3 separate regions of the Homo sapiens genome follow, and regions 1 and 3 are each linked to region 2. The links come from fine-mapping of genetic effects on gene expression. A gene starts in region 2. Each other region holds a variant in brackets. All regions are shown on one strand. Distances are from middle to middle. Region 1 overlaps LOC105371512 (a long non-coding RNA gene). Region 2 holds the start of ASGR2 (asialoglycoprotein receptor 2). Region 3 holds the start of CTDNEP1 (CTD nuclear envelope phosphatase 1).

Region 1 (8,175 bases), 24 kb after region 2:
GGTCCGTGGGCACAGGCCCGGGGGTGAAGCCCTAGCCAGAGACCCGCCCTTCTCTCCCCAGCACTTCCCTGCCCGACTCCTGTATCAGAACCAAATGGTTTTCTGTCTTCTCGACAAGATCACAAGGTTCTTTGAAGCCAAGCACAACCAGAGGGTCCTGGGGGGTGGGGGTGGGGGGGCACCATATGCCCATAGCGTGGCAGCTCTTCCCTGTGCCAGAAGCACAGAAATGAAGGGACCCTGCCTTCAGGAACAGCACAGTTAGGAGGAAAATAAGGCTGGGCACGGTGGCTCATGCTTGTAATCCCAGCACCTTGGGAGGCTGAGGCGGGCAGATGGCGAGGTCAGGAGATCGAGACCAGCGTGGCCAACATGGTGAAACCCCGTCTCTACTAAAAATACAAAAAAGTTAATCGGGCATGGTGGCGCACACCTGTAGTCCCAGCTACTCTGGAGACTGAGGCAGGAGAATGGCTTGAACCCGGGAGGCTGAGTTAGCGGTGAGCCGAGATGACACCATTGCACTCCAGCCTGGGCAACAAGAGCGAAACTCCATCTCAAAACATAAATAAATAAATAAGAGGAAAATATACAGGTTCACAAGCATGGAGTGAGTGGGACCCCAGAAATAAGGTGTCCAGGGAGGGTTTTCTGGAGAAATGGTGCCTCAGCCACCCCTGGAAGAGCCTCAGTCCAGAACCTCACCCTCCAGAGTTTCCACCTACACACCTGCCTGTCAAAAGACAGCAAACTCCAGGAGAGCCACTTGCCACAAGTATATAGGATCTAATATGTTTGTTTGTTTTCATATAAAATTAATTTCAAATTAAATATTCCTGGATGATGAGGAGTTACCGAATGGGTACAAGGTACATTTGTTTGGGTGATGGAGATTCTAAAAGCCCTGAGTTCACCACTCCACAATCTATGCATGTCACAAAATTACACTTGTTTCCCATAAATTTATAAAAATAAATAAAGCTGGGCCGGGTGCCGTGGCTCACGCCTGTAATCCCAGCACTTTGGGAGGTTGAGGTGGGTGGATCGCCTGAGGTCAAGAGTTCGAGATCAGCCTGGCCAACATGGCGAAACCCCATCTCCACTAAAAATACAAAAAAAAAAAATTAGCCGGGCACGGTGGCGGGCGCCTGTAATTCCAGCTACTCAGAAGGCTGAGGCAGGAGAATCGCTTGAACCCGGGAGGTGGAGGTTGCAGTGAGCCGAGATTGCGCCATTGCGCTCCAGCCAGGGCAACAAGAGCGAGACGCGGATCTTTTGAGCCCAGGAGTTCAAGGCTGCAGTGAGCCATGATTGAGGCACTGCATTCCAGCCTGGGCGACAGAGCCAGGCTCATCTCAAAAACTAAAAATAAAGAAATTCTGACACATGCTACACCATGGATAAACCTTGAAGACATTATGCTGAGTGAAATAACCCAGTCACACAGGGACAAATATTGCATAATCCCACTACCTAAGGTAGTCAGATTCATAGAGACAAAAAGTAGAATGGTGTGGTCGCCAGGGGGAGGGGTTGGTGGGCGGGGAATGGGGAGTTGCTGTTCCATGGATTTAGAGTCTCAGTTTCACAAGATGAAAAGAGTTCTGGCCGGGCGCGGTGGCTCACGCCGGTAATCCCAGCACTTTGGGAGGCCGAGGAGGGCGGATCACGAGATCAAGAAATCCAGACCATCCTTCCTGGCCAACATGGTGAAACCACGTCTCTACTAAAAATACAAAAATTAGCTGGGCGTGGTGGCGGGCGCCTGTAGTCCCAGCTACTCAGGAGGCTGAGGCAGGAGAATCGCTTGAACCCAGGAAGCGGAGGTTGCAGTGAGCCGAGATCACACCACTGCACTCCAGCCTGGCGACAAAGCGAGATTCTCTCTCCAAAAAAAAAAAAAAAAAGATGAAAAGAGTTCCATGGATGGTTGCACAGCAATGAATGTGCCGCGTGCAACAGAAACGCATACTTAAAAACGGTTAAATTTTATGTGGTGTGTATTTTACCACAATTTTTTATGTAAAAGGCAAAGTTTTAAAAATTACTGCAATCAGTATTAAACCTCATTTCATATTTCTAGTTTACTCTTTCGCCCTTAGGAAGTTGGGTTTTTTTCTTTTTTCTCTTATGTTCCCAACATCAGGATAGCAGCGCCACCGTGTGGTCACAGCTGCAGGTGCCAGTCTGAAAGAAGAGAGACTCCCCTGCACCCCAACTATTTTTTAATACAGGTTGAGCGACCCTAATCCCAAAATCCAAAATCCGAAAGGCACCAAAATCCAAAATTTTCTGAGCCACAAGTGGAAAATGTCACACCTGACCTCATGTGACAGGTTTCAGTCAAAATGCCATCGAAACTGTTTCATGCACAAAATCATTTAAGATAATATATAAAATTACCTTCATAGCCTGGACAACATAGCAAGACCCTGTCTCTACAAAAAATTTAAAAATTAGCCAGGACTGGTGTTGCACGCCTGTACTCCCAACGACTCGGGAGGCTGAGGCAGGAAGATCACTTGAGGTCAATCAATCTGCATTATACTTCTAAGTAGCTGAAGTGAAACATTAAACAGTAAAGAGATCATTCTTACATAGCTAAGAGTATTCAATTATTCAGCTCCTGAGAACTATTTGGCTACACTTACTTATTATCTTTCTTTTGCCAACTGGTAAGACATCCTAGCCTGAATCACAAAAACACTTTCTGGTTCACATCTTAGAGTCGAAAAAGGCTTGCGAAGCCCCTAAAGGTGTTGAGGCAGCTTGGCCTGAGACCGTGATAGCTTCTGTTTCATCCCCAGATCTATTACATGGAGTTCAGAAACCAGGACGATTGCATTTATAAGCCCCAAATTTAAAAGATTATTTGAAAAAGAGCTTCTTGAGTTTTACTCTTGATACACTAAATGCAATCCACAGCCTCTCTGCCCTAACAGACTTTCGTGTTCCTTCCCTCTTTTATAGTAAAATTAGGAAGTGGGGAGACGGGACAAGTAAGTAAGGGAATCTGCACAGGCTGAGCAACCCCACCCTCAGCCTTGCTGAGTTCTCTCCACCCAGAGGACACTGTACTCCTGCTCTGGGAAGACAGCGCCTCCCGCCAGGGGATTCCGCCAACCACCGCTCCCTGCAATCGGGGTTACCAGTGATGATTCTTCCCCCAGCATCACCCTACGGTGTCTTGGCAGCCTGCCTCCTTCACAGACTGCCTCGAGAGTCCCTCAGAGCTATTTCCTTAAAGACCAAATGCGAGCATATCTTCACTGACGGGGTTTCAGAGCCTCACTTTGCAAGTTTTGAGGCAGAGGCTCAAACTAATTTTGCTGAGAAGGACAGGAGAGCTGAGAGAAAATCAAACAGAACGGCGGCTCTCCTCCCATTCATGGCATGTAATGCTCTGGGCCCAGCTACATCTGCCATGGCCTCCAGGGACCTGCTGGAGGGGTCTCCCAGCCCCACCTGGTATAAGCCAAGCCTGCTCCAGACTCAGGATCTGCCCAGAGGGCTGGGATCTCACAGCCTGAGGTAAGCATGAGTCAGTCTGAATGTAATCTACCCTCCCTACACCCCTTCCCAGCCCCAGCCTCTCTGAGGGGTCTCATAGCCACCCAGCCTGCCTGTGACCTTTGCTGGCTATAGCTTTTCTTCCCATTAACTTTTTTTGTTTTGTTTTTGAGATGGAGTTTCACTCTGTCGCCCAGGCTGGAGTGCAATGGCGCGATGTTGGCTCACTGTAATCTCTGCTTTCCAAGTGCAAGCAGTTCTTCCCCCTCAGCCTTCCAAGTAGCTGGGACCACAGGCACCCACCACCATGCCCGGCTAATTTTGGTGTTTTTAGTAGAGACAGAGTTTCACCACGTTGGCCAGGCTGGTCTCGAACTCCTGACCTCAGGTGATGCGCCCGCTTCGACCTCCCAAAGTGCTGGGATTACAGGCGTGAGCCACCATGCCCGGCCCCCATTAACTTTTAATAATAAAACATGGTGGCCAGGCGCGGTGGCTCACGCCTGTAATCCCAGCACTTTGGGAGGCTGAGGTGGGC[A/G]GATCACGAAGTCAGCAGATGGAGACCATCCAGGCTAACACGGTGAAACACCCCGTCTCTACTAAAAATACAAAAAAATTAGCCGGGCGTGGTGGCGGACGCCGGTAGTCCCAGCTACTCCGGAGGCCGAGACAGGAGAATGGTGTGCACCTGAGAGGCGGAGCTTGTGGTGAGCCGAGATTGCACCGCTGCACTCCAGCCTGGGCGACAGAGCAATACTTCATCTCAAATAATAAAATAATAATAATAATAATAAAAACATGCTGCCTGATTACAGGAACTTAAACTTGTTTTGTTTACCCAAGCTGACATGTAAAAGTTACTAATAACTTCTTTGTCTAGGCAAGTTAGCAAATGACTTTGTAAGCACTGAGCAGCTCCCCTTAACTGTTTAAGTGGGAAGCCAGCCGTCGCCTACCCCAGGCAGGGGAGGCAGGACTTCTCCAGTGGCTCAGGGGAGACTGCCCTTCTTTGCCAGTTTTGGTTTGCAGACAGGTCACTGAAAGGTGGGGCCAAAAAGCTTCTGTGAAGCAAAGAAATTTGAGACCCTAGTCCCTTTCTTTTGGAGATCTAATGTCCTTAGAACCTCTGTGATGAACAGAGGCTCTAGCTGAAGTCCACTGACGGGGAAAGGCACCAAAGGGCCCGAGGGAAGCCCATCATGACTGAAGAGGAAATAGAACAAGTGACCCTGTGTCTTAGTCAGCTTGCACTGCCATTGCAAAACACCACGGACTGAATGGCTTAAACAAAAAAAAAACATTTCTTTCTCACAGTTCTGGAGGCTAGGAAGCCCAAGGTGAAGGTACCGGCAGATCCAGTGTCTGGGGAGGGCTCACTTCCTGGTTTACAGACAGCCACCTTCTTGCTGTGTCCTCACGTGGATGAGAGAGCACACTCTGGCCTCCTTCTCTTCCAACAAGGGCACAAATCCTATCGTGGGGACCCCACCCTCACAACCTCATCTAAATGTAATTATCTCCCAAAGGCCCCACCTCCAAATATCATCACACTGTGGAGTAGGGCTTCCACCTATGAATCCGGGGTGGGGAGGACAGAAACATTCAGTCCCTAGAATCCTGTATCAGTGCTAAGGCCTGGTAGGGTTTGTGAGGGAAGCCGCGTTTGGCACAGGCTGAAGGTGCCCCCTCACCAGATAGAGGCTGAGAAGATGTGCTTTGAGGACCTCTGCTGAGCAGGGCTATGAACTGAAGTGTTTTTTCCTCTGGAGCCCGAGGACACGGTGCAGTTGCTCAGCAGCACTAAGGAGGGACTGGGTGTGCCCTGAGCAAGCTGTCATTGGGGGTTAAAGACTGAAACTGTCACAGCCTAGGTGCCTAGTGGCTTCCGGGACAGAGCTAAGCAGGGCACAACAGGGGTAGACGGTCTGTTCCATTAAGCTTTTGAAGCTCGTTGTCTGAGGTAATACCCAAGGTTCATCGTCTCATGCCAAGGAAATTGAGGATGCAGGCACACACGACGAGTGAGTTTAAGAGCAGAGGTTTAATAGGCAAGAGAAAGAAAAGCTCTCTCTCCTGCAGAGAGGGAGGGGCTCCCAAGTCGGTCTTCTGGCTCCGAGGTGAAATGCACTGGGTGTTATAGGTGAGCTTGAGGAGGCAGTGTCTGATTTGGAGGTTTTGCCTTGTTTTGTTTTGTTTTGTTTTTGAGACAGAGTTTCGCTCTTGTTGCCCAGGCTGGAGTGCAGTGGCACGATCTCGGCTCACCGCAACCTCTGCCTCCCAGGTTCAAGGGATTCTCCTGCCTCAGCCTCCCGAGTAGCTGGAATTACAGGCATGCACACCACGCCCGGCTAATTTTTGTATTTTTAGTAGAGACGGGGTTTCACCATGTTGGTCAGGCTGGTCTCAAACTCCTGACATCAGGTGATCCACCCGGCTCAGCCTCCCAAAGTGCTGGGATTATAGGCGAGAGCCGCCGCACCCACCCGGCCAGGCAGTGTCTGATTTACACAGAGCCCAAAAGATTGCGGGACCAGGTATGCCATTTACATAGTGCAAGAAGAAGCTGGCCGCCCCACCCTAATCTTTTATTATGCAAATGGATTCTCTACCTGGTTGGCATCATGTTGCTGCTTCCTTTACTGTACAGGTGGTTGATAAGGAAAAGGGAAGATGAAGCCTCCATGTTGAACATGCCTGGCCCCAGGTAGCCTTTTCCGATTGGCACGGCTGCCGCCATTCACCCGTTCAAGCTTCCAGCTTGCCTGTCAATGTCTGCAGCTCGATTTTACAGGCTGCTCTTTGTTAGAAAAGAAATGATGTGGGGGCTGCTTTTTGTTAAAAGGGATGCCTTACCGAGGACTCTCTTACCCTCACCAACTGCCTAAGTAATTTCTTTTTAGCTCCCGTATTACTGCATCAAACTATAGCCAGATCCACGGTGACTACAGCGCAGCCACGGCAGGGGTGGCCTCTGGCTGAGCGGGACTTGTTTGCAGCAGCAGCATCTGGTGGCAATCGCAGAAATAAGAAGGCAGTCGAGGCCGGGCACAGTGGCTCATTGCTCATTGCTTGAACCCAGCAGGCAGAGGTTGAAGTGAGCCAAGATCGCGCCACCGCACTCCAGCCTGGGCAACAGAGTGAGACTCCGTCTCAAAAAAAAAAAAAAAAAAAAAAGAATTTCGGCATTTGAGAAAAGGCTTAAGAATCTGGCATTGAACAGGCTATCCAGCCCAAAAGGGACCTCACCTGCTTTGTTGATTGTTGAATGGCCCAACTACATCTGGTTGCAGTGGCAAACGGCTGACCTCCACGAGCAGCTGAAAGTGCCTCCTGCAAGTGACCGACTCATCCAGGCCTTGGACCGAGAAAACAGCTCCTCAACTGCATCAGCTGGACCATGGTACAGACCAGAGACAGGGCAAGAAAAGAAGCAGAGGCTATTGGCCCGTGCAGAGAAGAAAGCTGCCGGCAAAGGGGGCATCTCCATGAAGACCCCAACTGTCCCACGAGCAGGGTTAACCCCGACAGCACCTTGGTGGAGAACAAGAAGCCTCAGCTGGTGGTGACTGCACGTGACTCTCGTCGAGCTTGCTGTCTCTCTGTCTGCGCTGTGTCCTACAGTGGGGTTCCCTTACTGCGTTATCCAGGGGAAGGCAGGACGGAGATGCCTGGTCTGCAGGAAGACCCCAGAAAAGACTGTCACCTTCACACAGGCTCACTGGGAAGACAAAGCAGCTCTGGCTAAGGTGGCGGAAGCTATCAGGACCGATTACAATGGCAGGTGTGACGAGATCCACAGTCACTGGGGAGGCAATGGAACCTCCTTTGCAAAAATTATAACTGAGGAAATTATGACAGTGAAAGAAATCAGACCTAACCGACTCCATCTTGCGTCTAACCTTTAAGCTGTCCTTGTCCATTCCTCGGCGTGGGCTGAACAAACTTCGGGGAGGAATTCAGCTCGTGGTTTGACTCTGAAACAAAATTGATAATAGCCCTTAACCGAAAAGACTCTTCTTGCCTGGGGACCAGTCTGCCTTTGCAAGACTAACAGATTAGCTACGAGATCAGAAATTGTAGTTTAGGGGTCATGCAGACTCTGACTCTAAGAGTCGGAACTTCCCCACATTGCTCCTGGGAATAACATCACTATTGTAAAACCTAAGATCAGTACTTGAGATACTTTTCAGACCCTGCACTCGATAGATCAGCTGACACCACCCAGACTCATAATCTGACCTAACCAGTTCTGCCACCGCACCCAGGAACAGAAGACAGCAAGAAAATCTCACTTTGATCTCCTATGATTCCGTCTCCAACCTGACCAGTCAGCGCTCCTCACTTCCCAAGCCCCTATCCGCCAAATTATCTTTAAAAACTCTGATCTCTGAATGCTGGGAGACTGATTTGAGAAATAGTAAAACTCTGGGCCGTGTCACGTGCGTCCGAGTGAAGAGCCCACCGAACAGGCTTTGTGTGAGCAACAAGGCTATTTATTTCACCTGCGTGCAGGCGGGCTGAGTCCGAAAAGAGAGTCAGCAAAGAGTGGTGGGATTATCACTAGCTCTTACAGGTGTTGGGATAGGCGGTGGAGTTAGGAGCAATGTTTTGCAGGCAGGGAGTGGATCTCACAAAGTATACATGGGTGGGGAGAATTACAAAGAA
Region 2 (8,175 bases):
ACACACACCTGACACACCCACACACGTACACTCACACACCCACGTCTTCCTGCACACAGAGCTGGGCTCCCTCTCTGCTGCCTCCAGACCCAGAGCAGCTCCAGTTGTCCCAGCCCTGAGCTCCTCTCTTTGCAGCATCCACCTGCAAACAGAACACCTTCTAGGCCTTGGACCCTGACTCTGTGGACTTCCTTGTCTTCTCATTCCTATCACCCCCCGACCCAGCAGGACCACATCCTGGGGAGGCTCAGTCAGGGGCCCAGAATCTTCCTCCCCAGGTCACTTCCTGCCACTGTCCTGAGTCAGACACTGCCCCTGTAAGTGACTGTCCATAACTCTTCATCTTTTTCACACCAGTGACTTCCACCTTCCCCACTGCAGCCACACTCAGGACCCCATTTGACCCAGGGAGGCCTCTGACACCTCCACTGCCCACTCCCGCTCTGAGCACAGCCCCACCCTCCCTCTCACTGCCCCCACCCCTTCCTCCAAGGCCTTTGCATTCCTCTCCATCCAGAAGCGCTCCATGACCACGGTGTTCCCCACCAAGCTGGCCCTCCATGGCTGAGTCCCTGACTGCTGTCTTCAGCACCCTCCACTCAGAGGGTCCTGTCCTGCTTCCCAGTCCGACTTATCAACTCCCAATGCTGGGTCAGCCCAGCAACGTGTCTGTATATCCACCCTGAAACCAGACTGCCCACAGGGTAGCCCAGCTGTGCCTCCAGGTAGCTCTGAGATCATGCACCAGCATTCAATTTCTCCATGCTTCCATTTTCTCGTGTGTAAAATGGAGATCACAGTCGTAGCTACCCGATTGGATTGCTCGGATAATTAGATGAGTTAAAATATGTAATGTGCTTCTTAGGCAAAAGTTTGAACATAAAAGACAGGGTCTGCCCAAGATGGGAAGAGTTCTTCTCTCCCCAGAAACAATCAAAACAAAAACAGACAACTATAGAACATGGCAGCTTTCAAGACTCTGGACATCAGGCAAGGAGGAGTAAAGATCCCTGAGGGATAAGAAGCAAACAACAGGAACCCTCCGATCACCCCAGCTTACTGTTTGGAGAGAGTCTGCAGGTTACAGGCCAGGAAAGGGAAGTCCAGGCAGAGCCCAAGAGACTCCCCACGTTGAGGAGATGGAGCTGAGAGTCCGAGGAGACCAAAACAATTAAGAGTTCAAACGATCAAACTGACTCTAAGTTGCTTAACTGCATCCCGGAGCAAAGCTCAAGAACATTTAGAGGAATACAAAAATATCCAGCACCCAACAAGGTGAAATTGACAATGTCTGGCAGCCAATCAAAGATTACAAGGCATGCAATGAAACGGGAAAACACAATGCATAACGAGGAGGTTCATAAATATCAAAAGAGATCCAGAACTGACACGGATGCTAGAATTAGCAGGCAAGGATGGTAAAACAGATATTATAGCCATATCCCATTATGTTCAAAAAATTAAGTAGAATTGTGGAGGATATTTAAGAGTCCCCAGGTGAACTTCTAGAGATAAAAACTACAATGTCTGAAATGAAAAAACACACTGGCCAGGCGCCGTGGCTCACGCCTGGAATCCCAGCACTGTGGGAGGCCAAGGCGGGCAGATCATGAGGTCAGGAGATCGACACCATCCTGGCTAACATGGTGAAACCCCATCTCTACTAAAAATACAAAAAATTAGCCAGACGTGGTGGCAGGCGCCTGTAGTCCCAGCTACTCGGGAGGCTGAGGCAGGAGAATGGCATGAACCCGGGAGGCAGAGCTTGCAGTGAGCCAAGATCGCGCCACTGCACTCCGGCCTGGGCAACAGAGCGAGACTCCGCCTCCAAAAAAAAAAAAAAGAAAAGAAAGAAAAGAAAAAACACACTGGATGGAAATAATGGAAGATGAGAAATGCGTAAGAAAAATTTAGGGCCAGGCACTGTGGATCACATCTGTAATCCCAGCACTTTGGGAGGTCGACACGGGGGGAATCACTTGAGCCCAGGAGCTCAAGACTAGTCTGGGCAGCATGGCAAAACCCCTCTACATGGCAAAACCGTCTCTACAAAAAAAAATTTTTAATTAGCCAGGTGTGGTGCCACATGCCTATAGTCCCAGCTACCTGGGAGGCTGAAGTGGAAGGATCGCCTGAGCCCAGGAGGTGGAGGCCACAGTGAGTTGTGACAAGCTACTGCATTCCAGCCTGGGCAACAGAGTGAGATGAGAGAGAGAGAGGGGAGGGGAAGCGAGGGAAGGAAAGGAGGGGAGGGGAGGGGGAGGGGAAGGGGAAAATTTTAGTTAACTTAATGAACAGCAATAACTCTATAAAATGAAACACTGGGAGAAAAAAGAATTAAAAAATGGAAAGAGAATGAGTGAGCTGTGGGACCCTTAATACATGCATAATTGAAATCTTTAAAAGAAAAAGGGGGTAGCAGAAAAAAATCAAGTGCTGAGACAAGTGGAAGATGGGCCCCGGTGAGCAGCTGATCAGTGTCAGCTCCCATGATGACGTTCCCCCAGCCCCCACCACCCGGGCTGCTGGAGGGAAATGCGGTGACTTTGCTACATCCCTTCAGACGGTCCCTCACTGGTGTCCCTCAGCCCATTCGCGTGAGCTCACTCTCCCATTAATTTCAGAAATCCTGGCCTCTCTCCAAGCCTCCTGCTCAAACTCTAAATTCTGTCACCCTCAGAAGATTCAGCAGCATCCCGTATTCTCTCTGAGTGTTCACTATGTACCGGGTGCCGTGTGGGCACTGGAGTTGCAGAGGAGAGTGAGGCGGACAGGGCCTCTGCCTGTGGGGACACCGCCTGGTGGGAAGTCCAGCCAGCCCCCTACAGAGAGAGGAGATGCTACTGGTGTTCCTGAGTGGTCCTCGGGAGGGACCTCCTATCCCTCCTGTCCCCTGCCCTGCCCTGCCCAGCACCGGCCCTCCCTCGGTTGGCCAGCCTCAGGAATGAGGAGTCCCTCATTCCAGCCCAGCTAACCAATCCCCTTCCTAAGCTCCAAGCCCCTGCTCCTCCTGCCTCCATGGAACCCGGCTCCACCACCAGCACCCACACACCTGACACTCCTCCATTCCTGGCTCTTGCCCTTCTGCCTAGCACTGCTCAGATCTCTCTCACCTTAAAATCTTTTCCCACCAGCCTGGGCAACATAGCAAGACCCCATTTCTCTAAAAAATTTTTTTTAATTTGCCAGGCACAGTGGTGCACACCTGTAAGTCCTAACTACTTGGGAGGCTGAGGTGGGAGGATGGCTTGAGCCCAGGAGTTCGAGGTTGCAGTGAGCTATGATCCTGCCACTACACTCCTGTCTCTAAAAAAAAAATGTCCAAGATACTTAGGTCCTTCAGTCAAGATTTATTACAGAAGGATCCAGGGAAGGGTCTTGGGAGATGAGAGGAGCAGGGATCTTCCAGGATCTCTCTGTGCTCACGTCCCCCACCCATCCCAACTCACCCCACCTCTACACACACACACACACACACATACAATCACATACACACACTAACACACACACTCACGCAACACACTCACACACACAACATACATAACACACTCACAACATACACACACAACACACACACTCGCACAACATACACACACGCACAACATACACAACACTCACACAACACACAAACATACATACACTCACACAATACACACACACAACACACACACAACATACACAACGTACACACACACAACATACACACACTCATACACAACATACATACACACAACATACACACAACATACACACACTCACATACACAACATACACTCGCACAACATACACACATGCACAAGATACACACACAACACACAACATACACTCACACACAAGATACACACAACATATACTCACACAACATACACACACAACACACTCTCACACACAACATACCCTCTCACATACACGACATACACACACACAACATATGCACGCTCTCGCGCACATATACACACACACAACATTCACTCACACACACACACAGAGTCCCAGCTGAATCTGCATTCCTCATATGCACATACGTGCACACGCACATACGAGGCACATGTGTTCTTGGGTTGGGAGGAGAAGGGCAGGCAGTTATCTTCCAGATCTCCCCACACCTCTGGCACATGCCTTTCCTGGGGTCCTGGGGTAGACAGGAAGGTGAGGTGAGGGAACAAGCGGGGGTGTCGGGCCCTCCTCAGTCCCTGTTCACAGAGTGGGTGCGGCAGAGACCTCAAAGGGACAGAGCAATCATGAGCTGAGACAGAGGGGGAGCAAAGCCGCAGAAACTGCACACTTGCCTTTCAAAAATGGATTTCCTCTCCTGGGATTCAGCCTGCGAGTGCCTGGCCCCTCACCTTGATGGAAAGGATGGTCATTTTCCTCCGAGCTCAGCTGCTGGATATCTTGAAAGTCCTTGGCCATGATGGGGCCCGGGCTGGAGCTGGAGCTGGAGCTGGGCTGGGCTGGGCTGAGGTTGCTCTGAGGGCTGGGGCTGGGGCAGAGGTGCAGATTCACGTGGAGGTTGATGGTGGGATGGAACGCAGGGTCGGAGGGGTTCGGGGTGGTGGCCTGGGTAGGATCTGAGGTTGGCAGGGCGTTTGGGATGAGGTTTGAAATCCCGCTGGGTCCTTTCCCTTCTCAGGAGACCGCTTGGGCCTTGACCTGGCCAGGAGACCCCTCCCCACGCTCATGGACCCGACCACCCACAGCTTCCCATGGGGTCCTCCCCATCCCTGAACCAAGGCCTCCTTGTTCCCAAGCATCCTCGTCCCAGTTGCCTCCCCAGCCTCAGTTACCTGTGAAAGGTGTGGAGAGCGGACACCTGGCTCCCGCAGGCAACCCTGGCCTTGGCCAAGGAGGGGTTAAAGCCAGGAGAACTGGGGCAGGTGGAGCTCACAGGGGAGAGGAGAGTGGAGGAGGGGCTGGTCCGGGCAAGGCCTGCACTGGAGGGTCTGAGTGTCCAAGCTCTAACCTGGCACCTCCTGGCCTGGGACTTTGGACAGTAAACAGAAGAGGAAACAGAGCTGTAACTCATTTGTGGGGTGGGGGCAGGGGACGGGGCTATCTCTGTTCTTATTCCCAGAGAGGGGGGTCCCCTGGGCTGCGCTCAACTCCACACGCCACTCACCCCACTCATTGCACCATTTGGAAGGGGTGCCAGGCCAGGAGGGGCTGGGGTGCAGTTTGCCGTTTCCCTCTCTCCCTCCCCCTCTCACTTCCTGCCTCCGAATTTACCAGAACTGTGGGTGTCTCCAAATATCCCTGACCAGGATCACAGCGACCAGTTCTCTACTCTTGCCCAATCCGGCATCTGAACCACAGACCCCAGCTTCCTGTGGGCTCGGCCACCAGACTCTCAGCTCTGGCCCAACTCGCTTCACTCTCCTGGAGAGTAAAGCCTCTCAAATCCAGAAGCTTCAGCAGGAGGAGGAAGGGGCTTTGCAGAAAAACAGCTCTCCTCGCAGGAGGAATCCAACCTCAGAGAGCCCCGTCCGGCCCAGACCCTGCCCCAGCCCAGGCAACACAAACACTGTCCTCAGGCCCAGCCACTGCCCTAAATTCTCCAAGGTGTTTCTTCATTTATCACAGCACAACACCCCCACGAGGCAGGACTTCTGTTACTCCCATTTCACAGGGTTCGGAAGCGGAGCCTCGGAGAGATGAGGCAACTTGCTCTAGGTGGTGGCCCAGGTGAGTAGAGAAACTGGCAAAGCAAAATGGAGTAAAGAGGGGAAAATAACATCATAACAAAAGGTCTGGCCGGGCACGGTGGCTCACGCCTGTAATCCCAGCATTTTGGGAAGCCGACGTGGGTGGATCACCTGAGGTCAGGAGTTCGAGACCAGCCTGGCCAACATGGTGAAACTCTGTCTCTACTAAAATACAAAAATTAGCCGGGCGTGGTGGCAGGGGCCTGTAATCCCAGCTACTCAGGACGCTGAGGCAGGAGAATCGATTGAACCTGGGAGGCGGAGGTTGCATTAGCCAAGATTGCGCCATTGCACTCCAGCCTGGGCAACAAGAGAGAAACTCCATCTCAAAGAAAAAAAAAAGAAAGAAAGAAAAAGAAAAGAAAAGGTCTTCATGGTCCTACGAGGAAGACTGGCTTCCATGAAGCAAGGAACGTGGCTGACTGTCTACACTTGCGCTAACAATAGCTCGGGAAAGAAAACACAGTTTTTGTGCATGATTTTCTGACCCTCACCAAACTTGGGCGGATGGCTACGGGCAGGGTTTCTTATAAAGCTGCTCGTTTCCCCGGGTGCCGAAAAGGAATTCAAACAGAGGCCTTTTCTGTTCTTGTAACTTGCTGACCCACATGGGAAGTAGCCACCCCCCCAGTACCCTGACATTCCCACCCAGCCACCAGGCAGCAGCAGCCGCTGGGCTCTCTGACTGCAGCCCACAGCGAGAGACGAATTTCATGCTGTGATCCAGAACATACACACAAGCACCCGCACACACAGGTGCATTTGTATGTGTTACTTTCTCCTGGATCCCCAGTGCCTGCCACACAGTAGCTGCTCAACAAGTATCTACTGAGTGAGTGAGTGAATAGAATAATGCGTTTGGAAATACACGGTTGACACTAAAGTTTGATGGGACAATGCTCACCTTACTACGTGCCTTCTGTTGAGTTTCCCAGTCCATTAATGGGTCACAACTCAAAGTCTGAACAACACTGCTGTGAAGCCCCCATCTTAAGGGGCATGTGGATTTAGTCCTGAGATACAGGTAAGAGCTTCACAGATGGATTGTCTACTGCATGTCAAGCTTTGCCAACTGCCAACCAGGGATGGGGCCATCCTCATTGGCCACCCCTTTGACTGAACCAATTCCACGTTTCAGGGCTTGTCACTTACACCCCCACTCACGGCACTACAGGGAGAGAAGGGACAGAGAAAGCCAGACTCATCTGCGTCCTTCTCTTTCTCCCTATTTGAAAATCATTTTAACTTAGAAGTTAACATGTACTTGGACTATTTCTGAAGTTTCCATATTGTTGGAGGTTTTCTGTTTTGGGTTATGGAATCCTATTTTCTTTGATTGATTTTTTTTTTTTTTTTTTTTGAGACAGAGTTTCACTCTTGTCACCCAGGCTGGAATGCAATGGCGCGATCTCAGCTCACTGCAACCTCCACCTCCCGGGTTCAAGTGATTCTCCTGCCTCAGCCTCCTGAGTAGCTGGGATTACAGGCATGCACCACCACGCCCGGCTAATTATTTGTATTTTCACCATGTTGGCCAGGCTGGTCTTGAACTCCTGACCTCAGGTGATCCGCCCATCTCAAACTCCCAAAGTGCTGGGATTATAGGCGTGAGCCATCGCGCCCGGCCTTATTTGGTTGATTTTGATTTGGGGTTTATTTGTACCTCAGACACAAAGGTTAGATTGGTCATATTCCTTACTTCATGACACTAGGTCTTCCTCAGAGGTCTGAGCTAAACCTTTGTCCTGTTTCGTTCTTCCCTAGCTCCCATCCTGTTTCCCCTCACTAATTCTATACTCTCTACTCTCTATAGGCAGCCAGAAGTCTGAGTGCCCTGACAGTCCCCACAGATGGTGCCCATCAATTTCTCCCCTCACCACATGTGCAAGTCACACCACTCAGCCAGGGGTAGAGTCTGTTTCCCCTCCCCTTGAGTCTGGGCTGGCCCTGTGACTTGCCTTGACCAACAGAAAGCACTAGAAATGACACTCTGCCAGTTCTGGGCCTGGACCTCAAGAAACCTGGTAGCTTCAGTTTTCAATCTTGGAAGTCAGTCACCATGCTATGAGGAAGTCCAACTATCCTGCCAGAGAGAGTCCTGGGGGATAAGACAGCACATGGAGAGAGAAAGAGGCCACACAGAGGTGCACTGAGGCCCCAGACATGTGAGCAAAGTCTTCTGGGAGTTTCCAGGGCAGCCCAGTCACCAGCTGATTGTATCCAAGTGTTTCACTCCAACCAATACCCCGTGGACCGCCCAGCCTAGCCCTGCCCAAATTTCTGACCCAGAGAATCTTAAGAAAAAACAGTTGGTTTAAGCCACTGGAGCTTTGGGGTGGTTTATTATGCATCGGTAGATAGCTGAAACAATATATATTACTAAATATGTAGGTACCCTTATAAAATATGTGATGGGGTTTGCATGTCTATCTGTTCTGTATTTACATACACAGAACTTTCATATATCTCATTT
Region 3 (8,163 bases), 140 kb after region 2:
GGGAGGGGGAACGGGGGCCCCGAGTGGCAGGAGAGGCTGCAGAGAGGGGCACGGAGCGGGCGGCTCAGAAAGCCACCCCTGGCGAGGGTAAAGCCCAGCGGAACGGGGAGCTGGGGGACAGGCGTGGGCAGCCCGCGGGGGCCCACATGGGCTGGGAGTGGCACCGACGGCTTCGGGGAGGTTGCGGGCCGAGACAGGTAGGGCTAGGATGGGGTCCTCCGAGACCTGGAGGGAAGGGGAAGGATAATTGGGGGAGGGGGCAGTGGGGGAGGGGGCTAGGGAAAAGGGAGGAAGGGAAAAGGGAAGGGGAGGGGGGGAAAGCAGAGAGTGGCCCGCTGCGCAGGCGCGCTAGGGGGCTGCTCGCAGGAACGGGGAGGGCGGGGGCAGCGGCGCGCAAAGGGCCGCGGCAGCGGAGAACGGGCCTGCAGAGCGAAGGAGCAGGGAAGGAGGGGGAGGGGGAGCCGGAGGGCGCAGAGCGCTGGGCCGGAGCGGCCTCCCCCTCCCCGAGCTCGGGGGTCCTTTAGCCGCTGGGGACCGGGGCTGCAGCCTCTGCAGCTGGGTTTCCCACTCTGACAGGCGCCATTTTACCGTCCAAAGGACTCCCTCTTCCTGTCTTTCCCCCTCCTCTTCCCCTTTGACACTACTTCCGGTGGTGACGTGTATTCGCTTCACCGGGACTAAGTTCCTCCTGCGCGGTCTATGGCGGGTAGGTATAAGGAAAGCCAAAAGCACTCCAAGCGAGGCTGCAGTATTGCGCACGCGCAGAAGGTGGCCGCGGGGCGGGGCCTGAGGCGAAGCAGGCCCCGCCTCAAACTGCGTGGGCGGGGAGAGTGACGTCACTTGGCCCGCGCTTAGGGCCCTCGCGGGGGGCTTGTGGGTCCTCCTCCCCCTCCCACTGACAACTGCCCCAACTGCTCTTCCCGCCCCGGTCACAGTGAAAATGTAGACGGGGTCGTTGTCCGTACGACTGTGCGCCAGGGCTCGGGGAGGGGCGCCCTCCGCGTGAGCGCCCCCCTGGGAATATTGAACATAATCACCTCTCATTCCAGACTATGTTAGGTCTTAATGGTGGGAGGACGCCCGAGTGCTCGGCCCGTTTCACCCCGAGGAGGAAGGACACTGGGTCATGACGCCATCAGAGGGCGCCAGAGCAGGGACCGGACGCGAGTTGGAGATGTTGGACTCGCTGTTGGCCTTGGGCGGCCTGGTGCTGCTTCGGGGTGAGAGCCAGAGGCACGGTGGCGGGGCGGGGGGTGCGGTTCGGGCCTGGCTGAGGGGACGGAAGTGGGCAGGAAGGGCCAGGGGTCACAGGCTAGGTGTGGAAATCGCGACGGGTTCGCGAAGGCGGTAATCCCAGCGCTCTCATACCCTTTATCCGTCCCTCGCTCTGCAGATTCCGTGGAGTGGGAGGGGCGCAGTCTCTTGAAGGCGCTTGTCAAGAAATCTGCACTGTGGTGAGTATCCCACAGTGTCTCCCCGGCCTACCCTGGATAGGGCACCTGTGCCCACTCTTTGACAATCCCTTCTCATCTCTGCCTTAGTGGGGAGCAAGTGCATATCCTGGGCTGTGAAGTGAGCGAGGAAGAGTTTCGTGAAGGTTTTGACTCTGATATCAACAATCGGTAAGTACCAGTTGGAAGAGATTTGATTAAATTTGAGACCTATAATGCTAAGGAAATTTCTTTACAACAAGCGCAGAACCTGGTATGTAGTAGCAGTTCCTTAAATATTCATTGAAGAATTGGATATGGATCTTTCAGGAGGCAAGAATTAATAAGAGGAGTGATGAGTATTTGGGGAGTCCAAAGCAAAGATCATAGAAGTCGAGAGAGAAATAGCCTGGAAATAGGGAGAACATGTGGGAAGGGTATTGCAGTAATCCGTTAATCCGGCTTCACTCTTTAAGGTACATATGTACCGAGCACCAACTATCAACCAGGTGCTGTGCAAGATACTGGAGACGGCAGTGAGTGAGACCTGTTCCTGACCTAATGAATTTTAGGGAATAATGGTAGGAAGTGATAGAGGCCTGGTTTAAGGCAGTGGCAGTAGAGATGGAAAGTTTAGAACACATGTAAAGGACTTTAGTGGGTAGAATTTCCAGGATTTATTGACTAATATGGGGGAGAAGAAAGTATTGAGATAAGGAAGTTCCTAAACCCAGCGGCATGCCTGATCAGGAGACATTAAGAACCATTAGTAGGATGCTTTCTACTTCCTAGTCCCGGCAACTCAGTGGATGATAATAGTAGTTTACATCTTATCTGTTGAGCCTCCAATTTTGCATCAGCCATTGTTGTGATAGAGGCGGTGGTGTATGTTCAGATGGCATTCCATGGCTGGGCGCGGTGGCTCACGCCTGTAATCCCAGCACTTTGGGAGGCTGAGGCGGGTGGATCACCTGAGGTCTGGAGTTCGAGACCAGCCTGACCAACATGGAGAAACCCCATCTCTACTAAAAATACAAAAAATTACCTGGGCATGGTGGCACATGCCTGTAATTCCAGCTACTCAGGAGGCTGAGGCAGGAGAATCGCTTGAACCCAGGAGGCAGAGGTTGCAGTGAGCGGAGATCACGCCATTGCACTCCAGCCTGGGCAACGAGCGAAACTCTGTCTCAAAAAAAAAAAAAAAAGCGGGCACTCCACAAGAGAAGATAGAAAAGAGATATCTGGGAAAAAAAGTTCTGCTACCTATGCCAGTCTCCCTTTCCTGAGCTGTTTTTTCTGTAGTTGTTACTTCTTGACTTAATTCTTGACTTTCTTTAAGCTGTTCTACAGGCAGGACCAAATCTCACGTCCTCTGCTTTCTCTTTTTTCACCCAGGGTGATAATCTTTAGGTGCCACACACAGGAAATATTTGATAATGGTGATAACTAACATTTATCAGGCATATACTATGTGTCAAGCACTGTGCTGAATGCTTAGAGGTTGGCATCTCATTTCACCAATGAGGCAACTCTTAGAAATAATGTATCAGTTAGCTGACCTTGGGCAAGTAGCAAAGCCAAGCTTGGAGATCAGGCTGTCAGACACCAAAGTCTGTGCTCTCAATCACTGTATGCTCTCTCTCAGTAATTATCTTTCACTAATATTTAGGATATTCATAAAAATTGAGAAAACAGCCATAAAGATCAGAGGATGAACTTTGTGATCCTCTCGGGGGAAGGGGCAATATTATATTGTGTCTTATTTTCCCTTTGCAGGCTGGTTTACCATGACTTCTTCAGAGACCCTCTCAACTGGTCAAAAACTGAGGAGGCCTTTCCTGGGGGGCCGCTGGGAGCCTTGAGAGCCATGTGCAAGAGGACAGATCCTGTTCCTGTCACCATTGCTCTCGATTCACTCAGCTGGCTGCTACTTCGCCTTCCCTGCACCACACTCTGCCAGGTCCTGCATGCTGTGAGCCATCAGGACTCTTGTCCTGGTGAGACCCCTCCTTCATTGTTTCCCCTCATACATCTCCCTCTGCCAAGGAGTGTGCCCCTTTTCCTTTCTACCCTAGAATAAACATCTGGGTTCTCCAGTCAGACCTTTTTTCATTTTTTTGACTTTTTTGTCTGTTTTTTTTTTTTTTTACTTCTCCTTAATGCCATCTACCATTTGCTTTTTTTTCTCCAAGTTATTTTTTTACTCATTTGTTTCACTCATTCATTCATTTAACAAATCAATAGTAAATATATACAATGTGTCAGGTACAATTCTAGATAATGGCAAAATACAGACTGACTGTAGCTGGGTCCTTGCCTTCCAGGAGCTCGAAGTCCCATAAAAGATGGAGATAAGTAAACAGGCAGTTACAAGATGGTCTGATAAAGGCCATGATGATACAGGCATGCACAGGGCACCTTAAAGAAGGGCACTCTTGGCCGGGCGCGGTGGCTCACTCCTGTAATCCTAGCACTTTGGGAGGCCGAGGTGGGTAGATCACAAGGTCAGGAGATCGAGACCATCCTGGCTAACATGGTGAAACCCCGTCTCTACTAAAAATACAAAAAAAAATTAGCCGGGCTTGGTGGCGGGCACCTCTAGTCCCAGCTACCCGGGAGGCTGAGGCAGGAGAATGGCGTGAACCCGGGAGGTGGAGCTTGCAGTGAGCTGAGATGGGCCACTGCACTCCAGCCTGGGCGACAGAGCAAGACTCCATCTCAAAAAAAAAAAAAGGCACTCTCTTGAAGAGCAAGAGGTCATCCAGGCAAATTTGGCCGGGCAGGGGCACTGAGACTAGCCTTGAAGTGCACTGTGGGTACTCGAATGGACTTAGGAGTCAGACGCCCAGCTTTGTATTAAGGTGCTTGATCTCTCATTGCTTCACTTTCCCCTGTATATGGGGGAAGGTACAAGGGAAGTATTAGGATGAACCACTATATTGCCATTTCTTAGGTTAAAAGTTGTTAAATATTGTCTGGGCGCAGTGGCTCATGCCTGTAATCCCAGCACTTGGGGAGGCCAAGGCGGGCGGATCACCTGGAGTTGGAGACCAGCCTGGCCAACATGGTGAAACCCTGTCTCTACTAAAAATACAAAAAATTAGCTGGGTGTGGTGGTGCACGCCTGTAATCCCAGCTACTCGGGAGGCTGAGGCAGGAGAATCACTTGAACCCAGGAGGCAGAGGTTGCAGTGAGCTGAGATCACGCCACCGTACTGCAGCCTGGGTGACAGAGAAAGACGTCATCTCAAAAAAATAAAAACAGTCCGGGCGCAGAGGCTCATGCCTGTAATCCCAGCATTTTGGGAGGCCAAGACAGGTAGATCACGAGGTCAGGAGTTCAAGACCAGCCTGGCCAAGATGCTGAAACCCCGTCTCTACCAAATACAAAAATTAGCCAGGCGTGGTGGCACGCGCCTGTAGTCCCAGCTACTCAGGAGACTGAGGCAGTATTGTTGAGCCCGTAGCAGGGGTTGCAGTAAGCCAAGATTGCGCCACTGCACTCTAGCCTGGGCGACAGAGCAAGACTCCATCTCGAAAAAGAAAAGAAAAAAAAATTGTTAAATGTCAGTGATTTCATACAGTTTGACCTAAAAA[C/T]GCTGACCTTTGTAAGGATTCAAACATTGTGTTAAAGCGTTTAGCATAGTACCTGACACTCTCTAAATGCTCCCAAAAAGGGAGGCAGAGAATTGAAGGCACTGACTGAGATCTTGGGAAGTTCCAGAAACTACAAGTACTTCCGTGTGTAAGAGATGAGGCTGGAAAGTAAGTGGACACCACCTGCTGGAAGCGTTCGTTCCATCCTGAAGGCAGGAGCTGCTGAAGAATAGAAGTTAGAGCGGTGCCTTGATCAGCTTTACATTGGGATGATAGAGGAGATTAAGGTGTGGGCTGGAGGAGGCTCAGAGCACGGTAGTGAGATTGGCCAAGGGACGTCAGGATTTTGGCAGCACTGTGATGGAATTGTGAGGCTCTCTCTTCTTCACTGTTAGCTCCCAGGCCACCAACCTGAATGCTCCCTACTATCCTACATTTCTTGTCCTCCTCTAGGTGACAGCTCCTCAGTGGGGAAAGTGAGTGTGCTGGGCTTGCTACATGAAGAGCTTCATGGACCAGGCCCTGTGGGAGCTCTCAGCAGCCTTGCTCAGACTGAGGTGACCCTGGGCGGTACCATGGGCCAGGCCTCGGCCCACATCCTGTGTCGGAGGCCCCGACAGCGCCCAACTGACCAGGTCAGAAGAACCAACAGAGAAGGACTGGAAACGGGGGACAGAGAAAGGGGTGGCACGATGGGAAGAACAATGAAAATGCTGATGTTTCAAGGAGACTTTAAAAACAAACTTTTTTAGAGATGGGGTTTCACTGTGTTGGTCAGGGTGGTCTCAAACTTCTGGGCTCAAGTGATCCTTCCACCTCAGCCTCCCAAAGTGCTAGGATTACAGACGTGAGCCACTGTGCCCAGCCCTCAGTGAGACCTTTTTTTAAAAAAAGCTGATTTAGGTATTTCTCTGTTTTCTATCACTCACTTCATTTAATCCTCTCAGCTATGGTTAAGGTAGATTGTTTTATTATCACCATTTTTCAGGCTGGAAAGCCAGTCCAGGGAGGGTTTTATTCCCTTGGAGTTTTTTTTTTTTTTTTTATTGGACAAGGTCTCACTGTTGCCCAGGCTGGAGTGCTGTGGTGCAATCATAACTTACGGCAGCTTTGACCTCCCATGTTCAAGTGATCCTCCTGCCTCAGCCTCTGGTGTAGCTGGAGGTGGGAGCACAGGCATGTAGCACCACATCCAGCCAGCTTTTTAGTTTTTTATACAGATGAGATCTCACCCTGTTGCCCAGGCTGGTCTTGAATAACTAGGCTCAAGCCATCCTCTGGCCTTGGTCTCCCAAAGTGCTGGGATTACAGGTGTGATCCACTGCACCCGGCCCAAGGAGGTTTAAATTTAAGTCACTTACCAAGGTTATAAAGTGTAAGTGGGGCCCAGGCGAGGTGGCTCAGGCCCATAATCCCAGCACTTTGGGGGGCCGAGGTGGGCAGATTGTGAGGTCAGGAGTTCGAGACCGGCCTGGCTAACATGGTGAAATCTCATCTCTACTAAAAATACAAAAATTAGCTGGGCATAGTGGTGGGTGCCTGTAGTCCCAGCTATTCGGGAGGCTGAGGTGGGAGAATCACTTGAACCTGGGAGGCGGAGGTTGAGGTGAGCCGAGATCATGCCACTACACTCCAGCCTGGGCAACAGAGTGAGACTCCGTCTCAAAAAAGGAGTAAGTGGGCTGCTCTGCCTAAGGAGTCGCCATCCTTTTATTCCTTTACTTCCTTAATCAACTTGCTTTCACTTTTGAAAATAAAATAGAGGCTGGGCGCAGTGGCTTACACCTGTAATCCCAGCATTTTGGGAGGCCGAAGTGGGCAGATCACCTGAGGTTAGTGGTTTGAGACCAGCCTGGCCAATATAGCAAAACCCCATCTCTACTAAAAAGACAAAAATTAGCTGGGTGTGGTAGCACGTGCCTGTAATCCCAGCTACTCGGGAGGCTGAGGCAGGAGAATCACTTGAACCTGGGAGGCGGAGGTTGCAGTGAGCTAAGATCACGCCACTGTACTCCAGCCTGGGCAACAAAGCCAGACCCTGTCTCAAAAAAAAAAAAAAAAGTTGAGGGCAGGAGCTGAAAGCAGTCAGTTAAATAGGTGATTGGGGGCTGAGGATGTGAGGTCCTGGAGTCTGTCTAGTTTCTTCAGTAAGATGAAAAAAACTCTTTTCTTTTTTCTCTCCAGACTCAGTGGTTCTCCATCCTTCCGGACTTCAGCCTGGATCTCCAAGAGGGGCCCTCTGTAGAGTCCCAGCCCTACTCCGATCCTCATATACCCCCGGTATCTAAGAATGCCAAGGCCAGAACAAGGAAATGTAGTTTAGTATCTGGTCACGGGAGAGAAAATAAAAGCTGCAGAGGTTGGGGGTGGGGTCAGGGATTCTAGGGATGGGGCAGAGTGGCAGCATCCTTTGTACCTACAGGTGGATCCCACAACTCATTTGACCTTTAACCTTCACCTGTCCAAGAAAGAGAGAGAAGCCAGAGATAGCCTGATCCTGCCCTTCCAGTTCAGTTCTGAAAAGTAAGGTTGGGACCTGGGTACGTGGATCCCTGAGTAGATCCCAGCATCTGGGCCATGGAGAGGTTGGGGCAACAGGTTATTGATTAACCTGACTTTATAGGGACTGAAGTCCACCTCCAGAGACAAGTCCAAGTTCTTGATCCACCCATTCCCCCTATAATGGCAGAGGACCTTTATGTCTCTTTTCTCTCCCTTATACCCTTGGGTCACAGCTCCAGTTGTCCCCAGAGCACCCTGGGCCTGGGCTGAGCCAGACCAGACCCTTGGGAGGTGGCCCTATCCCTAGGCAGTGGTGCTAGGAGGACAGAAGGCTATATGGGCGTGGCAGAGGCTGGTTAACAAGGGCTTAGTACACGCTTGCTGTTCTGTGCCCAGTATGTGGGCGGATGACGCAAGACTACAAGATCCTTGCCCTCAAGCTGCTAGGAACTTACGGTTTTATTAGGAGAGCAGTACAAGGGTATCTATCCCAGTACCAAATGGTGCTTCAGCTCTAACATGGAGGTCAGAGAAAGGGACTTGGACCAATAAAATGACATGGAGGCCTAACAGGTTGCCTGAATGAGAGTCACAGTCACCTGGAAGAAAGTATCCAGACCCAACCTGTTAGCTA

What was found. PIP is the estimated chance that this variant, and not a neighbour inherited with it, causes the effect.
Region 1: its variant is fine-mapped to the expression of ASGR2 in whole blood (INTERVAL, PIP above 0.99).
Region 3: its variant is fine-mapped to the expression of ASGR2 in whole blood (TOPMed, PIP above 0.99).

Annotation. Positions count from the first base shown.
Region 1 is chr17:7,134,268-7,142,442 of GRCh38, forward strand. LOC105371512 (a long non-coding RNA gene) reads left to right here. Exons shown (of 3, transcript XR_934191.3): 2 at 2,971-3,531; 3 at 6,411-6,496. It overlaps LOC124903910 (a long non-coding RNA gene), which reads right to left. Exons shown (of 2, transcript XR_007065600.1): 2 at 7,982-8,175. It also overlaps the pseudogene RPL7AP64. Among named protein-coding and RNA genes, the nearest start is that of ASGR2, 24 kb to the left of the region's middle. The variant A/G (reference allele first, on the strand shown) is at 4,049.
Region 2 is chr17:7,109,828-7,118,002 of GRCh38, forward strand. ASGR2 (asialoglycoprotein receptor 2) reads right to left here and starts at 4,995. Exons shown (of 9, transcript NM_001201352.2): 1 at 4,788-4,995; 2 at 4,290-4,483. The coding sequence starts at 4,413. RefSeq lists enhancers at 2,841-3,341, 5,147-5,933.
Region 3 is chr17:7,251,377-7,259,539 of GRCh38, forward strand. It overlaps CTDNEP1 (CTD nuclear envelope phosphatase 1), which reads right to left and starts at 358. Exons shown (of 8, transcript NM_001143775.2): 1 at 1-358. It overlaps ELP5 (elongator acetyltransferase complex subunit 5), which reads left to right and starts at 839. Exons shown (of 8, transcript NM_203414.3): 1 at 839-1,220; 2 at 1,394-1,454; 3 at 1,542-1,622; 4 at 3,207-3,427; 5 at 5,481-5,662; 6 at 7,212-7,307; 7 at 7,450-7,550. The coding sequence starts at 1,175. RefSeq lists enhancers at 1-548, 549-1,137, 1,006-1,225 and silencers at 86-205, 276-485, 1,256-1,495. The variant C/T (reference allele first, on the strand shown) is at 5,028.